Homo sapiens: one gene and its partners. The protein of the gene in region 1 purifies or fractionates together with the protein of each later gene. This does not show direct contact. Each region holds a gene or a part of one and is shown in the gene's direction. Other genes may lie near its edges.

Region 1 (7,755 bases):
TCAACAATTTTAATAAATTGATTACCAGTTGTTAAAAAAATTTTTTTTTAATTAAAAGTTTATGTTTTCTCTTTTTTTTTTGAGACGGAGTTTCGCTCTTGTTGCCCAGGCTGGAGTGCAATGGAGCAATCCCAGCTCACTACAACCTCCGCCTCCCAGGTTCAAGCAATTCTCCTGCCTCAGCCTCCTGAGTAGCTGGGATTACAGGCATGAGCCACCATGCCCGGCTAATTTTGTATAGTAGAGATGGGGTTTCTCCATGTTGGTCAGGCTGGTCTTGAACTCCCAGCCTCAGGTGATCCACCCAACCTCGGCCTCCCGAAGTGCTGGGATTACAGGCGTGAGCCACTGCACCCGGCAAGTTTATGTTTTCAATAGCCACATTTCAAGTGCTCAACAGTCTCATGCTACTAGTGGCTATCATATTGGCCAGCACAGCTATAGAACATTCCCACCACTGCAGAAAATAATTGGACAGCACTATTTTAGATACAAATACCCACTCGCCCACCCCCCAGTTTTTAATTTTAGTTACATAATTTACACATAGGTACATTCTCATTGTAAATTTTCTAACATTACAAAAATGTCCCTTACCAATTCTAGACCTCTGCCTAAAGATAAACGCCAAAATCAGTATGAAGTATATTTTCTGTGAAGATTTAGTGTGTTTTGCATTTTGCTTTTTTCCCTTGACATCGTCTTGGAGGTCTTCTTATAAGAATACATCTCTTGGCTGGGTGCGGTGGCTCATGTCTGTAATCCCAGCAGTTTGGGAGGCCAAGGCGGGTGGATCATGAGGTCAGGAGTTTGAGCCCAGCCTGACCAACATGGTGAAACCCCGTCTCTACTAAAAATACAAAAATTAGCCAGGCGTGGTGGCACGTGCCTGTAATCCCAGCTACTCAGGAGGCTGAGGCAGGAGAATCGCTTGAACCCGGGAGGTGGAGGTTGCAGTGAGCTGAGATTGCGCCATTACACTCCAGCCTGGGCGACAGAGCAAGACGCCGTCTCGAAAAAAAAAAAAAAAGAATATGTCTCTCTCTACCTTGTTCTTTTTTTTTTTTTTTTTTTTTTTTTGGTTTGTTTTTGTTTGAGATGGAGTTTTGCTCTCGCTTCCCAGGCTGGAGTGCAATGGCGCAATCTCAGCTCACTGCAACCTCCGCCTCCTGGGTTCAAGCGATTCTCCTGTCTCAGCTTCCCAAGTAGCTGGGACTAAAGGCACACGCCACCACACCTGGCTAATTTTTGTATTTTTAGTAGAGAAGGGGTTTCACTTTGTTGGCCAGGCTGGTCTCGAACTCCTGCCTCTAGCTTGTTCTTGAGTTTTTGCAGAGTAATCCACAGCATGAATGAACTTTAGGTTGTTCAACTATTGCCTTCATGATGAACATTTGTTTTCAGTTCTCCCCTGTTGCAAACAGTACTATATGCAAACATCATTGTACCTCTTTCTGCATTTGTACATGTTCGTCCAGGGTAAATACCAAAAAGTAGAATTGCTAGGTCACAAAGTCATATGGTAACACCCCTGGGGCTTGGCACACCCTGAAGCTCCTGCCTAGAATGCCTGTCCACGTGACTAATTCCTACTCATCAAGACCTATCAGTGTCATGTCCTGTGAAAGGCCGTCCCTTCTGCCTGTTTTCTCTCAATACTTCCTATCTGCCTTGCATCATTACGGTACACTTGGACTCTGCCTTATTTAACTTTGTACTCCCAACATTCCTAGCATAGCCTTAGCATGGAGTAAAAACTCAAGTGTTTTCTTGGCTGGGTGAATGAATGCATAAATAAACAAATGAAGGCACAGTGGTTAGGATATTCCAGAAACTCAAGGTGAGTCTGTGAGTGGCGTGAAATCTGGCTATGGACCAATCTGCCCATTGGTACCCTGAGCCAAATGCCTTGCTAGATTTGTCTTTTTTTCTTTTTGAGAGAAAGTTTCCTTCGACCAGGCTGGAGAGCAGTGGCGCAATCTCAGCTACCTAAGCCTCCCGGGTTCAAGCAATTCTCCTGTCTCAGCCTCCCAAGTAGCTGGGACTACAGGCGTCCACGACCACGCCTGCTAGTTTTTTTGTGTTTTTAGTAGAGATGGGGTTTCATTATTGGCCAGGCTGGTCTTGAACTCCTGACCTCAGGTGATCCACCTGCCTCAGCCTCACAAAGTGCTGGCATTACAGGCGTGAGCCACTGTGCCCAGCCTTAGATTTCTGTCATTTTTTTTCTTTTTCTTTTTGAGATGGAGTTTTGTTCTTGTCGCCCAGGCTGGAGTGCAATGGCACGATCTCAGCTCACTGCAACCTCCACCTCCCAGGTTCAAGCGATTCTCCTGCCTCAGCCTCCTAAGTAGCTGGGATTACAGGCACCCGCCACCATGCCCAGCTAATTTTTGTATTTTTAGTAGAGATGGGGTTTCACCATGTTGGCCAGGCTGGTCTCAAACTCCTGACCTCAGATGATCCACCCGCCTCGGCCTCCCAAAATGCTGGGATTACAGGCGTGGGCCACCGCGCCCGACCAGATTTCTGTCTTTATGCAGCCCTCTGTCCACTGACATCTCATCTTGAACTCTGGGTTGAGGACAGCACTGATGGAGCAGTGTGGATGTTAAGGGCTCTGGCCATAGAGCGCAGAATGGGAGCCCTGGGGGTAGCATTAGCTTGGAGCTGGCTTTCCAAAGGCATGTCTGTCTACTTTCAGCTTAGAAGCAGCCCCCTATGCTCTGGGTTTTATTTTGTTGTTTTTTTTCCCCTACAGTACCTCAGGGGCAATTAAGATCAGCTGCAACATTTCTGCTTTCTGCTCCCAGACTTGAGCCCAAGGGAAGCCAGATGTTTTCCAGTCCACATCCCCTTCTCTTTGTGGTCTGATGAACAGCCCTGTTTTCTGAGTCTCTCTATGGCCTGGCTTTCCCAGATCCCACAGCCTGGCTGCCAACTTTATTTTTAATGAGGTTTTAATAGGTGGCTCCTGTAATTAATTTCATTCTTGTGTTTTCACACTTCGGTCTAGGTGCCTAAAGGCCTTCAGGCGCTAGGAGGGATGTTAACTGATTTTAAAGAATACAAAACCCTGTGGCTGTGATTTGCCATTTTCCCAGCTCCTCTGATCTGCAGTTGTTTTTTACAATCATTAATTAGCTGGGGCTCATGGCTCAGCGGAAGGTCAGCTGGTCACCTGTCATGTTTTATAGAGGTAGAAATAGAGATAAGGGACTTGTCCAAGCCCTAAGAGAGAGTGGGTGTTGAAATTGGTCTCAGAAACCACATCCCAGGTTTCAGATTCACTACTCAGCTATGATTTGCCAAACACGGCCAGAATCCTCAGGCCAAAGGTGGCGCGCCTTGGGTGCCCCACAGGTGTCTTGGGGAGGCAGTTTTACCCTTCCATTAGCACTGCCCAGCAAGTGAGCCCTCGGCAGGCAAAATTACCCCCATTCATTTTCTCCAGGTCCCTTTCCCGTTTTGTGAGCGGATTCATCTGCGTAAAGAACGCGTCAGTGATTCCTCCTGGATTTAGAAACAACATAATTTTGCTATTTTTAAAGCTGCCGTTTAAAACTCCGCGCGCACGCACTCACACTCTTCAGGGAGCTGAGGGTGGGAGGAAAAGTACGAGCTTCAGAGGGCGCAGCCAGGCGCCTCAGCTTCCCAGGGCTCAGAGCCGCGTCCCTGGGGGCGCACTCCTCTGAGAGCGCCGGGGCTCTCCGACCCGCTGCGATTCTGCGCGCCCGGGACCTTCTGCGTCCGGGACCTTCTGCGCCCGGGCGTTCGACCCCGTTGGTCCGCGCTCCCCCTGGTCTTCAAGGCTCAGGGCACCGCCGCTGGGTCACCGGGCCCAGGAGAGAGTGGGAGGGGCGGAGAGGCCGAGCAGGTGGCGATTAGGTCAGCTTCGGAACATTCTTGGACCGCTCCAGTGGATATAAATAACAGACGGAGCCGCTCTGCAAAATCTCACCCCCGGGGGAAAGCGGGGAGAGGGAAGTAGGGAGAGAGGAGGGAGAAGGGATTTATTTAGCGTGGGGTGGCATCGTGGCGATATGGAAAAATGTACCAGACTGATAAAGGGGGTGGAGGGGCGAAGGGTAAGAATGAATCGTGGTACAAAATCTGGAAATAAGAACTCGGAGCGGGAGGAGCTTAGGCCTTTTTGTCCCACCCCCACCGCGTGTTCGTCTCAGGCCTTAGAAGGCGCCCCAGATTAGCAGGGCAGCTGTGGAACGGTAGGGCACGGTTTTGGAGTCCCAGCCCTGCCTGACTAGAGGGAAATCTTGGGCAAGCCTCTGAAAAGCCCCCGAGCCTCAGTTTTTGCATCTGTACAGTGGGAATCCTAATGCTTACAAGGGGTGGTTGTGAGCCTCGCCTGAGCCAATTTCTAAACAAGCTGTGCAGCTAAAAATGTAAGGCAGTGTAATTCCCCCGGCCCCTCTCCAAGGCTGCCCGTGCCGGCCCGGTCCCTTCTTGCTCCCTCGGGTCTCCCAGGCTCTGCAACGGTCCGGGAGAGGCAAAGCCGAAATCTGGCTCCCTGCGGCACCGGGGCGCAACCCTGGGGAGCCCGCCCAGGCACTCCGCACACGGGCGAAGCAGAGAAACCTCGACCCGCGCCACAAGAGCCGCTGGTCGCCGCGATGCCTGCAGCCCCGCTGCCCCGCCGCGTGGGGTTGAGGCAGCGGCGGCCAGGAGAGGGGCGGGGCCGGGGGCCGGGGGCCGGGCTTCCCGGGGGAGGGCCCGGCGCGCTCCGGGAGGCCGCGGCGCGGGCCCAGGAGCGGCAGGACTCGGGCCGGAGCGTGGCCGGACCCCCACCCGCCGAGGGGCCCAGGGAGGACGCGGTGAGTGCCCTGGAGGGGACGCGCGGGTAGGCGGCGGCGGGTGCGGTGGCTCGAGCCCGCCCTCTCCTGCTCCGGCTTCTGAAGTTTGCAATGGAGCCGACTCCCGCCCAGGGAGCCCCCGGCCACCCCGCTCTGCGTGCCGACGGGAAGGGCCGTAGCCGCGCCGAGGGGCCGTCCCATCTGCGGTGCCGCGGGCTTCGCAATTCCGCAGGCCGCCCGGGGGAGGCGGCGCCGGCGCTGGAGGGCTGAGCCGTCTTCAGGGGCCCCTCGAGGGCCCCCGTCCGCTCGCCTCGCGCCCGCCCCGAGGCCCCAGAGGGTCCTCGCTCCCTGGCGATCCCTCGCCCTATGCAGCGAGCCCCGATTCCTGGGTCCGCTGCCCGGGGCCACCATCTGGAGCCCACGGCAAGGCCGGCCCAGGCAGGGGGCGTCCCCTCCCCTTGGCGGTGATCAGTGGCCCCACCCCCGCCAAGACCAAGTTCAACAAGTTTGGCCAAGAAGTCTAGAGCTTCGGTGGCTAGGCCTGGCCCTGCCGCTCCGCGTGGCTCCACGGGCTCCGAGTTATGCAGCTCCGGGCGGCAAGGGGTCCTGTCGAGGGGCGCGGTCCATAAGGGTTGAGGCCAGAGGCGCGTAGCCTCTGGGCGCCGAGCTCTGGAGTGGAGGCTGGGGTTCGGAGTGCGTCATCTGGAAGCAGGCACCCCGGCCGGCAGGTCGGGTTTCCAAAAGTGCCCCTTTGTTATGCCCCTCCCTGGCCCTGCCTCCTCCCGCTTTGGCTGCGCCACCCCCTCCCCCAGCCTCCTGATCTCCTGGCTGGCTCTGGCTTCTGGTTCCAGCCCCTCTAACCTCGCTGTCCCTCTTCGGACCAGCCTACTGACGCCCCCTCCCCTCCCCCCCGCTCTGTCCTCAAATCCTAGAGCTGCGGGCGCACCGGGAGGGGCTGCCCGGGAAAGAAGCCCTTGGGCGCAGCCTGTGACTCAGGTTCCAGGGATGGGCCAGGCAGAATGGCTGAGCTCCCTCCCAGGGGCAAGCCCCCAGCTTCTGGAAGAGGTTGGGGCTGGTCTGGGGCCGGGTACCTTCAGGCCTCAGGTAGGGAGACTGGGTCTTCCCTGAACCAGGGACTTCCTACCTTGGCCCGTGCAGCTGCAAGGAGACCCTGCCAAGCCCAGGAAGACCTCTCGGAGCCGAACGTGCTGGCTCCCGGGGCTGGGAAGATTGCATTACCTGCTTTCTGAGCTCTTGCCTGCGGTGGGGACTGATTTGGGTCTCTGCTGAGCTCAGGAGGCACAGGGTGCCAACCTGCTCAATGGGGGCCAAGGTGCAAGCCCTCCTTGCTTGCTTGCTGAGAGGTCAGGCTGGGGCTGTGGGGCCTGGCTGCACCCGGGGCTTGGGCCTGTGTTTGCTCTGGGAGGCCGGAGGGAGCTGTGCCAGCCCGGTACACACAGCTTGCTCTGTTCTGGGGCCAGAGAGAGGGAAGGGGTGGGGGGCAGCTCTCTGGGGAGCAGGGAACTCGGAGGCTGGAACAGGCAAGGGGCCCCAGGCTCCTGAGGCTGGACTGGGGCGGCTCCAGAGCCCTGTGATTCATGGCAGCAGCTCTCTTTCTCTCCATCGCCCTGTCAGGTCCTTTCTGGGCAGACAGGACACACTGCAGAGGGAACCAAGTGACGAGCTTGTGAGGCCCCTGGTGGGCACCTCCATTGCCTGGGTCTCCGCGGAGCCCCTAGCTCTGTCTCCTGTTAGCAGAGGGGGAAGCCCACTTGGACCAAGCATTCCCACAGCTGCTGGAGCGGGCGCGTTTCCTGCGCTCCAGGTGGACATCGCTTCTTTTCTCACTTAACTAATTATTGCTGATTCCAGCGCGTGGGGACACACAAATCAGAATCCTGGAAGCCTCTGTCGGTGACTGAAGATAGACACTGTCCTGTCAGCCACAACTCCATGGGTTATACACCCCGGCTGAAGGGTCACCCGGGGCTACAGGAGCAAGGACAGAGAAACAGGGGAAGTGACTGAGGAGAAGATGCCTTAATTGGAGGTTTGAAGGAGAAGCAGAGGTGCATGAGTTTGGAGGAAGCGCTGTGACAGCGCCCTGCTTTGGGGACAAAGGGCGCACACTGTCCTCCTGGGTCTGGCTGTGTCCCTTGGGCCTGCTCAGAGAGGAAGCGATTTCCTTCTAGGGTCTGTGAGTCAGTCAGTGCTGGGGACAGCTGAGACCCTGCCCAGAGGCAGGAGGGGAGCAGCCACATGCCACTGTGTCCTTGAGTCCCTGGGGCCATGGCTCTGGGGTTGGAATTGGCTTGCCGTCCTCTGCGATTCTAGGGAACTTTTTTTTTTTTTTTTGAGACAGTCTCACTCTGTTGCCCAGGCGGTGGTATAATCTCTGCTCACCGCAACCTCCTCCGCCTCCTAGGTTCAAGTGATTCTCATGCCTCAGCCTCCTAAGTAGCTGGGACTACAGGTTCCCGCCACCACGCCTGGCTAATTTTTATATTTTTAGTAGAGACGAGGTTCCTCCATGTTGGCCAAGCTGGTCTGGAACTCCTGACCTCAGGTGATCCACCCACCTCAGTCTCCCAAAGTGCTGAGATTACAGGCGTGAGCCACCACACCCAGCCTGGGAGACATTCTTATAGTTGGCCATCGCTTCTCACTTCCCCATGCTGCCCTGGACGCCAGGCCTTTGGAGGGCAGGCCCGGGTTGTGTGTTCCCCACGGAGCCTTGCGGGCCCTCAGTGGATGTGTGGAGTGAGATGAGTATCTTCCGTGACTGCAGGGCCCCTCGTATTTCTGGTGCGTTGCTTGGTTTGAGTTTCACACCAGCCCTGGCATGGCAGCTGAGCACACAGAGGAGTTCCATCTTAGAGGGAGCTGGGGCCTCCTTAGGAGGAGACAGTTACATACACTTGTTCGGGCTTCCTGGCCAACACAG
Region 2 (7,013 bases), on another chromosome or scaffold:
TGTTTTCATCAACAAAGTCTTATGCATAAATAACATAACATATTTTCTGAGATTGGGCAGTTTCTATGAAATACAAAGTCTGAAATAAGACTTTTATTAAAACTGAAATGTAACAACTCTGATCTTGTTATATAAAACCACAAACACACACATGTACACAATCTAAGAAGACATAAAATAAACACTTCCTTTAGGTTGTAATGTGCAAAGGTGAAATGCACAGAAAGATATTAACCATCTTTTAAGTGTAATTTTTCAGTTTTAAATAAAGCTTTTCAAGTGGTACTTATAGTGGAATAAAAACATACTTAAAATAAGCATTTAAAAATGTTTTCATTATTCCAAATAGTTTACAAAAATTTTAGACAAACTCCAACCATTATGGCCCACTTTAACATGCCTATCTGCTTTTTATATAAGCACACAGGTATTTATTAAGCATGTAAACCTCCTTTCCATTTATTACTATCCAGGAGGAATATGAAACCTAGATTATTATTCAGAGAGATATATAGCTAAGTGGACCTTCATTTAGCTTCATTCTACCCATTGATTTTGGTACTAACCCCATTAGGTAACCACGTGAAGAATAAGTCTTCTTTCTCTAGTAAGACAAACTCACCTTCCATCTGTTCCATTTAAAATGGCCTACCAGCCCCTTTGAGTTGAAGTCTTTCCCTGAATCAAGTTCCTTTTAGGATTCTTCTGAGGAGGGAAGGCCTGAAGGTTTCCTTCATTCCTTTATTCAGTACACAAATACTGGTGGAGAGTCTCCTGTGTTCTGGGCTATGCTTTCAGGAGACAAAGGATAAGACGTGGTCCTTTAAGAGTAGGCTGGGCACTGTGGCTCACGCCTATAATCCCAGCACTTTGGGAGGCCGAGGCAGGCGGATCACAAGGTCAGGAGTTCAAGACCAGCCTGGCCAACATGGTAAAACCCCATCTCTGCTAAAAATATAAAAAATTAGCCGGGCACGTGGCACATGCCTGTAGTCCCAGCTATTCGGGAGGCTGAGGCAGGAGAATCACTTGATCCTGGGTGGTGGAGGTTACAGTGAGCCAAGATCATGCCACTGCAGTCCAGCCTGGGTGACAGTGAGACTCTGTCTCAAAAAAAAAAAAAAAAGAGAATAAACCCCTCCAACTCTGCATTATGTAAATGAATAACTGAAACAAAGTGTCATGGGTCCTTGCCCTACCTAACAGAACCTACTGGGGGCCAAGAAAGGGAAGGGCTACTTCTATTTCTGCAATGAGGGAAGTATTCCTGAGGGGATAATACCTATGCTTAGGCACTTAAAATGATCGGCTGGGTGGTGAAATGAGGGGGAGATTCCCAAACGGGGAAATTGAGCGCAATCTTGGAAACGTGGGCAATTTTGAAACAGCTCTGCATAACTAGAAAGATTGGAAAACAGCAGTTTTCTCCTGTTATGTGAAAAGATTTATAGCAGCCAGGCATGGTGGCTTATGCCTGTAATTCCAGCACTTTGGGAGGCTGTGGTGGGCAGATCACCTGAGGCCAGGAGTTCGAGACCAGCCTGGCCAACATGGTGAAACCTTGTCTCTACTAAAAATATAAAAATTAGCCAGGCGTGGTGGTGGTCACCTGTAATCCCAGCTACTCGGGAGGCTGAGGCAGGAGAATCACTTGAACCCCAGAGATGGAGGTTGCAGTGAGCCGAGATCGCATCACTGCACTCCAGCCTGGGCAACAGGAACAAGACTCCTTCTCCAAAAAAAAAAAAAAAAAAAAAAAAAAGATTTATAGCAAATCTGTGATTATTATTTTGCTAATCACTGGCTACAGTGAGGATAGCTTAGTACCATTATGTGAAGACCACCAAGCTTGGTGGTGCTCTTAAGTGGTTTTGCCCAACATGAGCTTATTTCTTGCTTATGTGGATTCTGTTGTAGGTCCTGGGACTCTCCAGGGCAGCTGTGCTCTGGGTAATAGTTTAGCATTCCAGTCTTGTGTCACCTTCATTTTAATACATGCTTTCATGATTGCAGTAGCAAAGGAAGGGAACATAGAGACTCAAACACTGGCAGTAATTTCACCAGGAAATAAAGCATTTCATGTCTGTTCACATTTCCACTTATCAAAGTCACAGGGTCATACCTAATTTCCATGGGGTGGAGCATATAGTTCTCCCTAGGACCAGAAGGAGGACAGCAAAAAGTGGTAAGCACTGAAAATGCCTTCAGTGGTTACGAAATGTTATGAATGTTTTATGACTAAGATTAGCCTAATCTTACTGGTATTAGGGTCCATAATATTACTAGTATGTCATAAATTAAGGCTGAAACTAATTAAAGATTTAATCTTGTCTTGTGATTGAAAGTTATGGACTTTCAAGTAGTTTCACTGTTACTCAATATTTGCATCATTGTCTGTGCAAGCAACTGTAAAAGCTTGCACAGCTCTGTATTCAGAAGCATAAATGATTCATGAAATTGTTTAAACAGAGTTATTGTTTAAAGACTAAAACCCAGAGGTATTTAAATAAATTGCTTTACTCTTAGTTAAAATCTCTAAAAGCAACTTTTTCTAATATGGTTCCAGTATTGTAATCCAAATGAGCCATGTGTTTTTTTCTTTTCATATTTAAGATGCACTGAAAGGACATTATGCACTGAAAGAAATAAATACCAATGCCTGCGTGTGGTAGACAAATGGCACATTGCTAGGCATTTAGTTCAGCAATCTTTTTTTGTTGCTGCAATGGATAACCAACTAAAGGAGCATTAATATCAATTTAATTGTAATACCTGCCAAATGTTATTCTATCAGTGGCTAACACAGGTTTATTACTTGATGTTAGTGCTACAACAGAAGTCCCCTGCAGGATGTTCCTTCCTGTAAGATCTCTCCATCAGTTTAATCCAAATATGTTTTTAAAACTCTAATTTTAAATTCATTTCTTAATGTCACGTTGTTTTCTGAAAACACATTTTTGGGCCCATCAGAATGGCGCGCATCTTAAAACAATTGGCGCTTATGAAAAATATAAAATATGTAAATATATTAGGGTGGTGCAAAAGTAATTGCGGTTTTGTCATTACTTTTTAAAAAAAAAAAAAATGGCAAAAACCGCAGTTACTTTTGCACCAACCTAGTACCTGTCTGTCAGGTGTAAAGAATCATCTAAAGGGCATGCACGTGGATACTAAAACGTACAAACAAGCACACAGCTGTGTCTGATTCCTTTACCCTTGTAAAAGTTCCAATAAGTGAATACAATCTATTACTTAATTCTTAGTTTATAGACTGTCATTAGACATACTGTTGTCCAGTTCTCATGTCAGAGCTGTTATAGGCTTTTACAAAAAATGCCTCTGAAGACAGGGCAAGCTTAAACCTGCCACCAATTAGAAAGATCTGTGTCACAGGTGCGCTTTTAAAAGAATGGCAATCTTAAAGGTCAAGTTAAAAACACAAATTTAAAAAAACGATCCTGGACGTCGAGGGTCGGACTCTAGGGGGGGCAAGCTGCAGGCCCCACTCTGCGAGTTTCTGACCGCATTCCGCGGAGGCCCCAATCCTCCCCGCGGATCCTGGCAAGGCAGGTAACCTCCCTTCCCCCGCACCTGTCCGGTTCAGGCGCACCAGCCTTCCCGAAGCGCAGCCTAGCGGTGGGAATGGGAACACCTCGTCTGGGAGCTTTCTTTCGGTTCAGCTTCCCCAGCCGGACCCCAAAGACCCGAAGCCCTGGGGGAAGGAAATTCCAACTTGCTCCCGGCCCACCCCCGCCCCGTTCCTCTCTCCGGCTCGCTGCTTCCCTCGCTCCAATGCCGCCGAGCTGGTCCCCACTTATGTGCGGCCGTGCTGCAGAGGCGGCGGCGAGCTCCCGGACTCCGGGCAGGGAAATGGGGCAGGGTGAGTGAGAGAGCGGGCTCCAGCGAGGCCCCCAGCGCCCAGCCAGCGCCCGCACCCCGCCCGCGGGACAGGGGAGGTGCTGAGTCGGCCCTGCCCGCGCTGGGCTGAGCCTCGCAGGGGTTGCCGCTTCTCCATTCAAGTCCTGGCTTGAGAGCCGAGCGGCAAGAGCGCGGGCCGGGGAAGGGAAGAGTAGGAGAGGAAGCCGCGAGGGAGAACAGGCGAGCTACTGTCTCCTTTGGAAAAGAACGTAGGAGCCTTGGGTGGGAAAAGAGAGATCAGCCCTCCCAACTTCTCTTCGGGAAAAGTTTTCCTAGGGCGTTTTGTTTGTGCAAACTCGGCCGGAGGAGCCTGGGAGTGCGCTGCCGGCGTGGCAGCGGTGCCCGTGCGCCCGGCCCCGCTCCTCCTCCTTTTCCAGCCCCGGCGGCTCCTCTCCCTCCGAGAGGCGCCAAATGGCTACCCAGTAAACCCCACGGGGCGGGGGCTGCAGCGCCACCGCCTCCTCCGCCGTGCTCTGGGCGCCCGCTAGACCTTGTAGAGACGGCGGCGGCGCCCGCGGGCTGGGAGCCGGGGCCCGCAGGTGGAAGCGCACCCGGGAGGCGGGCCGGCCGGGGCTGGAGCGGCTCGGGCGGGCTCTTGACGCTCAGCCAGCTTCGCTCCGGCCTCGGGAAGGCGCGCGTCCCGCCCTGACCCGCCGGCCTCTCCCACCCCAGCAGTGACGCGCCGCCTGGGAGCTGGAGCCCGCGCAGCGCCCCGCAGGGCGATGGACGGCCGAACCCCGCGCCCGCAGGACGCCCCAGCCAGGTAAGCCCAGAGCGCCGCGCCGCCTCTCACCGGGGAGGGCGAGGCCGGCGAGGACAGCGAGGCCTCGGCCGTTTCACCTGGCTGGCAACTCGCTGCCCTGCCGGCGGCCTGACTCACTGACTGTCCTCCACGCGGCCGGGGAGGCTGCTTCCTCCCGGCCTTCTCGGAGGCCGCCCGGGCGGAGGGCTCGGGTCGTTTTTGGTTGCCTTCCTACCGGGGCTGCCCTGGGTTGCTACAGGCCAGCTGAATGCCAGGAATTGGGTGAGGAGTCCGGGAGCAAAAATTGTAACAAAGGGACCCTTGTTTGGGCTCTGGGGGAGCGGTGGACGATACCTGTAAGTGAGCTCCTGGGGAGGGAGGGCAAAAGTTTCCTTGGTCATGGGCTGAGGCCCAGGCAGGTGAGCAATGTCAAGGTGACTGTAGGGAGTGGGCTTTCTGCAGGCGGGTGGAGGGCGACAGGAGGGTGTGCCAGCTGTCAGCCCGCATGACAGTTCCGGGAGCGAGCGGGGTGCGCGCCTCTGATTGGGGGTGTGTGTGCCTGTGGCCAATTGCTGGTTCCAAAACCCAGCGCAAATCAGATTGCAAACAACTCTACTTTTCTTTTTATCCTCACATGTTTGAGAAGAGAGGAAGGGGGCTGTCACATGGTGAGTTAATATTAAATGAGGCATGTCTTCCTGCCAGATATGCTAATAGTTACCTTGTTAAGCGTTTGAGTAAACAGTAATGAGAACAGGTAGTTCTGCAAGAGATGAAGAAAACCTGAAAATAACCTTGGTCTTAGTAAATAGTTCAGGAGTAACCTGGATGCTAGTTGAGTTTCTCAAGTAGGAAACTCGTTTGATGTAGTACAAGATTTTTCCCCCCAGCATAAGTGTTCCTCCAACATAGTTTATTTTCTTAGTTAATCTGAATGCAGAAATGCCCTAATGAGAATACGAGCATTCCAGAAATAGAAACGTTAAGGAAAAATCGACGTTGTCACTAATGAATGAGACTTGTACAGTTTTCCTGATTTAAGAGTGTAGAAGTCATTTTTCCCTGGAACATGACAGGCGTTTCCTTAGAAGCAAGTCACAGCATGTTTATTCATCAGAGACCATGCGAACATTGGCAGCTGTCTAGAGGAAACATGGAAAAGTCTCAAAGCAACATGACTAATCTAAAAGATATTTAGTATAATTTTTACATAGAGGAAACATGTAGTGTATTAATTATTTCATTTTGCTCAAATTAACTTTCTCCTTTCTGCAAATATTACTCCCACTGTTGACTTTCATTTCTTTTCTTTCCCCAGGTTTTTCATTGCTTAAATATTTTCATATATCCTGACATATATTCTCACATTAGGATGAGTAAAGAAATATATCGGTAGAAAGATATTGAGCATACAAGCAAGGTTCCTAAGTGGAGCTGCAAAATTATGTGAATTGACGATGAGACAGCTGTCAGGATACCGAAATGTATTCAGGGATTGCAAAATGAGATAGAATTAAATTGGATTTGGAAATGGATTAGGTTAAGGTACTTTAAAAAACAAAAAAGAAAGAAAAACATACCTGCTTTCACAAAATACACCCATGGGTGTTCAGAAGTCACTGGGGACTTTTAAGTAAAATAGGTGAGGTCAGATGGCTCTGTGTTGAAGAAACAGAAGAACACTTTTTGCTGGCAAGCATAACTGTAGTAAGAACCTTCAGACTTTACTCTTGATATTTTATTTTAATGTAGAGACAAGGTCTTGCTATGTTGCCTAGTTGATCCGAAACCCCAGGCTTCAAGCAATCCTCTCACCTTGGCTTCCCAAAGTGTTGGGTTTACCAGTATGAGCCAGTGCGCCCAGCCACTTTTGAGAATTTAAAGGTTAAACTGATAAGTTCTTTGCTTAAAAAGAAAGTACAAAAGAGCCTTATCTAATTTGTCAAGCATTTGTAAAGGACTTTTGCCGTCCCCTTTTCAAATTTAAGTAGGGAAAATCTGTCAACACCTTATCTAAAATAACACAGTAGTTCTATCATTTTGCCTTACATTATTCTACTCAGAGAAGTTATCATTACCTGAAAAATATCAACATGAAAAAATTACCTCTCTACTTCATTTGTCTTATTTCACTTGTCTAACTTGTCCTTTGGCATATTCCGAATGCCTGTCATATAAGATTTGTTGAATATTTAATATTCAGTATTGCTTCTCTTCTCTCTCAAAAACCCAAATTATAAAAGGTTTAAACTGGGGGAAAAATATCTAGATAAGGGTATTTGGGAAGTGGCAGGCAGAAATCTTAATATGTTATAATTGTTAGGTTTTGGAGATAAATTTCTTGCTATAAAAC
Region 3 (7,741 bases), on another chromosome or scaffold:
ATTCAGCCAGATGCAGGGGCTTGTGCATATAACTTCAGCATTTTGCGAGGCCAAAGCAGGTGGATTGCTTGAGTCCAGGAGTTCAAGATCAGCCTGGGCAACATAGTGAGACTCCCGTCTCTACAAAAAATAAACAAAATTATCTGGGTGTGGTGGTGCATGCCTGTTAGTGCCAACTGCTCGGGAAGCTGAGGTGGGAGGATCGCTTGACTCCAGGAGGTGGAGGCTGCAGTGAGCCGTGATTGTGCCAGTGCACCCAGCCTGGGAGACAAAGTGAAACCCTGTCTCAAAAAAAGAGAGAAAGGATTCAAACTCTACCTATACTGACAGCTCTCACCTGTTTGCATTCAGCTTGCTTCCCTGGGAGTTAGGTGTTCTTCAGCCTAAATGATGTTACCATCTCAAAGAGGTGTTCCCTGGCTATGCTATCTGTCCCCATCATTCTCTGTCACAGCACCAGTCACCACCTGAGGTTCTCCTTGTTTTTGTTTTGTTTTGTTTTGAGACAGGGTCTCACTCTGTTGCCCAGACTGGAGGACAATGGCACGATCTTGGCTCACTGCAACCTCCGCCTCCCCAGGCTCAAGTGATTCTCCTGTCTCAGCCTCCCGAGTAGCTGGAATTACAGGCACACACCACACCCAGCTAATTTTTGTATTTTTAGTAGAGATGGGGTTTCACCATGTTGACCAGGCTGGTTTCAAACTACTGACCTCAAATGATCCACCCGCCTCAGCCTCCCAAAGTGCTGGGATTACAGGCGTGAGCCACTGCGCCCAGCCTGTTTTTTGTTTTTTGTGTTTTTTGAGACAGAGTCTCACTTTGTCGCCCAGACTGGAGGGCAGTGGCGCAGTGTCAGTTCACTGCAACCTCTCCTCCCTGGTGCAAGCAATTCTCCTGCCTCAGCCTCCTGAGTAGCTGGGATTACAGGTGTGTGCCACCACACCTGGCTAATTTTTGTATTTTTAGTAAAGACGGATTTTCACCATGTGGGCCAGGCTGGTCTTGAATTCCTGACCTCAAGTGATCCACCTGCTTCAGCCTCCCGAAGTGCTGGGATTACAGGGTGTGCCACTGTGCCCGGCCTCCTTGTTGTTTACTTGTTTACAGCTCCTGGCCCCCAACAGGTGCTCAGTAAATATTGTTGAATCCATGCTTGACTATAAATGTGTGAACAAGGTGTGGAAGGCTGTTTCACACCGACAACTGCAGCTACTTCTTAGGAGGGGACTAGAGTTGAAGGAGACAGTCAAACTGGAACTTTAGATTTATTTTTAAATTTTTGATAAGAATGATGTATTCAGGCTGGGCATGGTGGCTCATGCCTGTAATCCCAGCACTTTGGGAGGCTGAGGTGGGCACATCACTTAAACTCAGGAGTTTGAGATCAGCCTGGCCAACATGGCGAAACTGTGTCTCTACTAAAAATACAAAAATTAGCTGAGCTTGGTGGCCCATGCCTATAATCCCAGCTACTAGGGAGGCTGAGGCAGGAGAATCACTTGAACCTGGGAGATGAAAGTTGCAGTGAACCGAGATCGTGCCACTGCACTCCAGCCTGGGCGAGAGAGACTCGTCTCAAAAAAAGACAGGGTCTCCCTATATTGCCCAGGCTGGTTTAGTCTTGAACTCCTGGCCTTGGCTCCCAAAGTGTTGGGATTACAGGCATGAGCCACCGTGCCTGGCCCCATTTCTTAATTGATAGTTAAAAATAAAACAAAACAGCACTGAATTAAGGGCCCAAGTCTCTCAATTCTAATCCCGAAATTATAGCATGATTTTGGGCAAGTGCCCTACTCACCTATCTCTGTGGCTTCTGATCTCACCTGTAAACACACAGACCCACCTTCCACCTGAACCCTGGATTTACAGTCTGCACAGCATTTTCTCATCCATTATCTCACCTTGTTACCCACAACCCTGGGATTCAGGCAAAGCAAGTATTATCATCCTCATTTTATAGGGTAAGAAATTGGGGTTCATGAGGGTGAGTTGTCTGGCCTGCGGTCACACACTGTGGTCGTACAGGTCCTTACTTCGAAACATTGTGAGCTGACTCAGATAATGAGTTTATAAAGCCCACAAATGGCTAATGGGGGTGACCAGGCTGTGCTGTGTAAGCTATTAGTATGGCAACAGGATCAGATATGGAGCTGTCTTCAGGGACCTAAAGGGAGCCCTTTAGGCTAGTGAGGACAGGGCTATAATCCCTCCTGGTTTCTTTTGTTTGTTTTTGGTTTTTTGTTTTTTAAATGGAATCTCACTCTGTTGCCCAGGCTGGAGTGCAGTGGTGCGATCTCAGCTCACTGCGTCCTCCACCTCCCGGGTTCAAGCCATTCTCCTGCTGGGATTACAGGTGTGTGCCACCACGCCCAGCTAATTTTTTGTATTTTTAGTAGAGATGAGGTTTCACCGTGTTAGCCAGGCTGGTCTCGATCTCCTGACCTCGTGATCTGCCTGCCTTGGCCTCCCAAAGTGCTGGGATTACAGGCGTGAGCCAAAAAAACCCACCATCTTTGAGATGGAGTCTCGCTGTGTCCCCCAGGTTGGAGTACAGTGGCGTGATCTTGGCTCACTGCAACCTCCGCCTCCCAGGTTCAAGCGATTGTCCTGCCTCAGCCTCTCGAGTAGCTGGGACTATAGGCACGTGCCACCACGCCTGGCTAATTTTTTTATTTTTAGTAGACACGGGCTTTCACCATCTTAGCCAGGCTGGTCTTGAACTCCTGACCTCATGATCCGCCCACCTTGGCCTCCCAAAGTGCTGGGATTACAGTGAGCCACCGCGCCTGGCCCAATTTTTTGTATTTTTAGTACAGACGGGGTTTCACTATGTTGGCCAGGCTGTTCTCAAGCTCTTGACCTCAGGTGATCCACCTGCCTCGGCCTCCCAAAATGCTGGGATTACAGGTATGAGCCATGGTGCCCAACCCCGCCCCCCTTAGGTTTTAATGAGAGTCCTGGGTGGTCTTTGAAGGCCTAGGTGGATGCTGGTGTCAGGATCCTGAACCCAAGTCCCTGATTTCATAAAAAGCATCCGGAATCCTGCTTTCCTGCCACTGTTATCCCACAGGGGACAGGGCAGGAGTTGGCAGCTCAGGGCTGGTGAGAAGTCCAGAGGGCTAGCCAGGCACTCTGGCCATGCTCTTCCTAGGTGGCCTGAGAGTCCATATACTGAGCCAAGATGGCGGCCTTCCAGTTGCAGGAGTGTTAGGCCAGCCCAGATTGGCAAGCTGGGTTCTCCAGGCCCTGGGCCAGTATTCTGGACTGGGACTCAGTGGACTTTGAAGAGGTAGAATTCCCTAAGTCGGCCTCTCTCCTTGATAATTTACCCAGAATGGCCCAGATGACAATCTGGGTACAAAATATTTCAGTCCATTTCATCATGTTTACCAAGTACCAGGAGTCAATAGAATTTATGAGTGATAACTAAAGGGTAAGGCACTTTACATCTTAATCCTCTCAGCCACCTTGTAAAGCAGGTATTATCTCCATTTTTAAGTCGTGGAAACTGAGGTCCAGGGAGGCACAAGATCACATGACTAAGGGAGTGGGGAAAGCCAGGATTGGAGATTGGGTTAATAGGGCTCCAAAATGCCTGATCTTTCCACTCCCCTGAGTGCTCAGGGGTGATGAAGATGACTAAGACCCTGTTCCTTCCCTTGGGAGGGAGCGAAATACCCACTCCAGCTAACTATTGCATGGGTCAGGGTGACATCACCACCTCTGCAGCAGATGGAGGCTGATTCATCTGTGGGAGAGTCAGGAGGGGCCTCTGCGGAAGGGTCGGCTGGCTGGAAGGGTTGGCTGGCTGGAAGGGTCGGTTGGCTGGCGGGGGTTTTGAAGACGGCAAAGATAGAGAATGAGCCTTGGGGAGGTTCCAGGGCCAGATACAAACTGCCTGTATGCCTCCCAGGCAGGGGCCTCCTTGGCCTAGGTCCTTCCCATAGGAACTCAAACCACCACCACACTAACCATGGCTGAGGGGACCCGGCAGGCCGCAGTGGGGAGGGACGAGATCCCTGAGCTTACACAGGGGCTGAGGGGAGCTCAGTGAATCACCTAGGGGACACCTGGACCAAAGGTGGCGGAGGGGCGCATGGGTCTCCCTGCCAAGCTATGGGGGAGGGGATGGTGGACATGACAACTTCCAGCTCAGCGGTGCTTTAGGGTGGGGAGCCGGGATGAGGGAAGCTGGTGGCTATCCGGGGGGGGGTGCTCTGAGGTCTGCAGGGGAACTGCCTCCCCAAAGTTTCAAGCTAGGGGTGGAAGGGGGGATTTGCGGTCATTAGGAGCGGGAAGGAGGCCGGATGGGAGCACGAGGTGTCCCGCCTCCAAAGGGTGGAGGGCTCCCGGTGGGTGGCGCGGCGGCGGCCGCGGCGGTGAAGTCATCGTGGGGAGTGGTCCGCTTGCGGCGGGTGCGGGGGCTTCGCGGGCACCCAGTGGAGCAGCGGGAGCCCGGCGCCGTCGAGGGGCGGGCGATGGGGCGCCGGCCCGTCTTGGTAGGGGTGGGCTCCGCACTGGAGGCGGAGCTGCTGCTGGGTGGGGCGCGCCTCCGGCGCGGACGGAGGCGGCGGGACGCCCGCTCCCACGACCGGCCCACAATGAGGCGAGCGGGCAGCGCGGAGTAGGCGGCGGCCGGCCGGGCCGGGCCACGCGGCGGCGCTGCTCGGGCAGGTTAGGGCAGGGCCGCGGGGCGCCCGAGCGAGGACACCGCGGCCCCGCCTCCGCCCCTCCCCTCGCCTGCCGGTCGGCGCCCGAGCTCGGAGCCGCAGCCGCAGCCGGAAACCGGGCCCGCGCGGCGGCCGCCGTCCCGGCCAAGCCGGGGCCCCGAAGCCAGAGCCGGAGCCGGGCGGGCCGCGGGGTCATGGCTGGGCCGCGGGGCGCGCTGCTGGCCTGGTGCCGCCGCCAGTGCGAGGGCTACCGCGGCGTGGAGATCCGCGACCTGAGCAGCTCCTTCCGGGACGGCCTGGCCTTCTGCGCCATCCTGCACCGGCACCGGCCCGACCTGCTGTGAGTGCGGGGCCCCGGGCGAGCGGGCGGCGCGGGGCGGGCTGGGGCCGCGACCGCCGCCCCCCCTCAGTAACACGAAGCCCGGGCGGTGACAGGCGCCGCCCCCGGACACGGAGACGCCGACCCCCCCGACGGCCCCGGACGCCGGGCGGGTCCCTGAGACCCCGGCCCAGGGCGCCCCTCCCCCGCCCGGCCGCCCTGACCCCGCCCGTGGGATCCCGAACTCTCCCCCGAGGCTGGTCCCTCCGCGGGGACACTGGCCCCGCCCACAAAGCGCTGATTTCCGCCGAGGATCGCTGAACCCCTAAGCCCTTGACCTCTTTGAAGGGGTGTTGAGCCCTCTTTGGGGGCCCTGGGCCTCTCCTACCCTAAACTCTTCTCCACGGGCTCGCCGGGCCTCCCCTCTCCCCCGAGGCTTCCCACTCGGGGTGGCCCCTTGCTCCGGGTGTGCAGGTGAACCCCCACTTCTCTGACCCCCAAATAGGAGCTTGTCTCCGGACAGTAGCACAGTTCCCGGCACAGAGGAGACCTCGGCTAACAGGTGTTGGATGAATGGATGTACAGACCCTGTGCTTTCCCCACGCCCCCCAACTTAGGACGCAGCCCTGCCTCCCGGGTGTGTGCTCGATGGCCCTGCAGCCCTCCTCAGTGGGGCACGCAGGTGGGGCGCGCAAGAGGAGTCACAGGCCGGCAATGTTGGGAAGACTCCTAGGATCCGATTGATAGACACCAACCGGGTGCTGCAGGTTGTGAAATGGCCCCTTCCTGCCCAGAGCTGCCCAATGAGGTTCTCATGGGAAAATGCATTCAGACTCCCCGGAACAGTTGACTTGGAGCCTCTGTCTTTGCTCTCTCTGCCTTGAGCCCTGGAACCTCTCCTCCTTTCGTCCCTTCATTCCTAAAACACTGGGTGAGTTTATCTGGTGCCATTCCTTGCACTTCAGGTCTCACCTGTGAATCAGGGAGGAGAGTTCTGGTCCCTACCCCTTTCGCATGCAGCCCTCTTGCCAGGGCTCCCCCAGCCTGGCAGATGGAGGCTTTCTGTGCCTGTTCCACCTCCAGATTTGCACTGTCCGAGGGCAGCATGTGGGAAGGCTTCTAAGGGATTGCCTCAGGATTCCATGATGCAGGTGCACCTGGTTTACCTGTATGTACCCTGCAGTACCGTGTCTGTGGGTGGTGGCTTGGGCCCTGGAGGAGAGGGTTTTGGGGCTGTGGATACAGAAGGGAACAAGATGAGGTGGTCATGTAGGTGGGCCCCTGCCCGCTGTGGGGCATGTGACACCCATACTAATGGAAGCACAAGGTTGATGCCTGGTTGCCCAGGAGCAGGGGGTAGAAGGATGGAGGAAAAGGGCACCAGGGTTAGACCTGGGCATTGGAAGGGAGGGCCCAAGGGGTCTTCTGTTTTGTTTGAGGGGCAGGAGTGAGGCAGGAAGCAGGGACAAACCCAGTGTGGGAGGGGACTTGGGTGTGAAGTGAAGCCATTTGGTGGGCCTGAGCCTGGTGGCATCAAAGTAAATAAAGGCCGCCTGGTTTGTGTTTAGCTTCTCCATGTCTTAGGCGCATGGCCTTGGGTCCTCATGGGCTCTCTCCAGGCATCAGTGTCCTCATCTGTGAGGTGGGATTGATAATGTGACACAGCTCACAGAAATGTGAGGATTGCATGAGATAACAAGCATTCATTTAACATTAGTTACTGTGAGTAACTAATGTTACTTTTTTTTTTTTTAATGTTTTTTATTTTTTTGAGATGGGGTCTCACTCTGTCACCCAGGCTGGAGTGCAGTGGCACAGTCATGGCTCACTGCAGCCCCCACCTCCCGGGCTCAAGCAATCCTCCCACCTCAACCTCCCTAGTAGCTGGGACCACAGGCACACGCCACCACGCCTGTCTAATTTGTTTGTATTTGTAGAGATGGGTTTTCACCATGTTGCCCAGGCTGGTCTTGAACTCTTGAGCTCAAGTAATCTGCCTACCTCAGCCTCCCAAAATGCTGGGATTACAGGCATGAGCCACCATGCCTGGCCCAATAACAATGTTTGATTTCTTCATTTATTCAACCAGTATTTGTAGAGTCATATTGCTCTGTGCTGGACACTGTACCTGGTAATGGAAGTACCAATCGACAAAACAGGCAACCCTACACGCTCTCCCACACCTGTAGGGGAAACGTGTATAAACGATGATGGCAATTCCATGTACCCTATCAGAGGGCTGGGGGTGGGAGACCTCCTAGGGAGAATATAGTCTTCAAGGAGATGGCAGGAGCCAGGTGAGGGCTGCTGGGTGGACGTTCTGGCATGGGACCCCATCTGAGCAAAGGCAAGGGGCGGGAGGTGTGTGCAAAGCTGGAGGCTGTGTAGCTGAGTGGGGAGCACAAGGTAGCGAGTTGGGAGATGCAGTTGGGACAGATGGCTGACAGCTGCTTTTGCTGGCTAAGGAGCATGGATAGGGGCCTCAGGGAACCATGCAGGGTTTTTTTTGTTTTTGTTTTTGTTTTTTTGAGATGGAGGCCTGTCACCCAGGCTGGAGTGCAGTGGCGTGATCTCGGCTCACCACAACCTCTGCCTCCCGGATTCAAGCGATTCTCCTGCCTCAGCCTCCCAAGTAGCTGGGATTACAGGCACGCACCACCATGCCTGGCTAATTTTTGTAGTTTTTAGTAGAGATGGGGTTTCACCATGTTGGCCAGGCTGGTCTCGAACTCCTGACCTCAGGTGATCC

What was found.
Region 2: the proteins of PACSIN3 (region 1) and COBLL1 purify together in Homo sapiens (affinity purification with mass spectrometry; 4 studies listed by BioGRID and IntAct, with this or other methods). This does not show direct contact.
Region 3: the proteins of PACSIN3 (region 1) and MICALL1 purify together in Homo sapiens (affinity purification with mass spectrometry; 3 studies listed by BioGRID and IntAct, with this or other methods). This does not show direct contact.

Annotation. Positions count from the first base shown.
Region 1 is NC_000011.10:47,183,426-47,191,180, reverse strand, and holds the start of PACSIN3 (protein kinase C and casein kinase substrate in neurons protein 3), read left to right. Parts: upstream 1-4,746; 5' UTR 4,747-4,832; intron 4,833-5,333; exon of another isoform or gene 5,334-5,539; intron 5,540-5,805; exon of another isoform or gene 5,806-5,915; intron 5,916-6,446; exon of another isoform or gene 6,447-6,636; intron 6,637-6,683; exon of another isoform or gene 6,684-6,880; intron 6,881-7,755.
Region 2 is NC_000002.12:164,838,824-164,845,836, reverse strand, and holds the start of COBLL1 (cordon-bleu protein-like 1), read left to right. Parts: upstream 1-4,013; 5' UTR 4,014-4,127; intron 4,128-4,404; exon of another isoform or gene 4,405-4,590; coding exon of another isoform or gene 4,591-4,640; coding exon 4,641-4,681; intron 4,682-5,014; exon of another isoform or gene 5,015-5,088; intron 5,089-7,013.
Region 3 is NC_000022.11:37,901,556-37,909,296, forward strand, and holds the start of MICALL1 (MICAL-like protein 1), read left to right. Parts: upstream 1-4,741; 5' UTR 4,742-4,867; coding exon 4,868-5,013; intron 5,014-5,275; exon of another isoform or gene 5,276-5,923; intron 5,924-7,741. UniProt on the Homo sapiens protein: Lipid-binding protein with higher affinity for phosphatidic acid, a lipid enriched in recycling endosome membranes. On endosome membranes, acts as a downstream effector of Rab proteins recruiting cytosolic proteins to regulate membrane tubulation.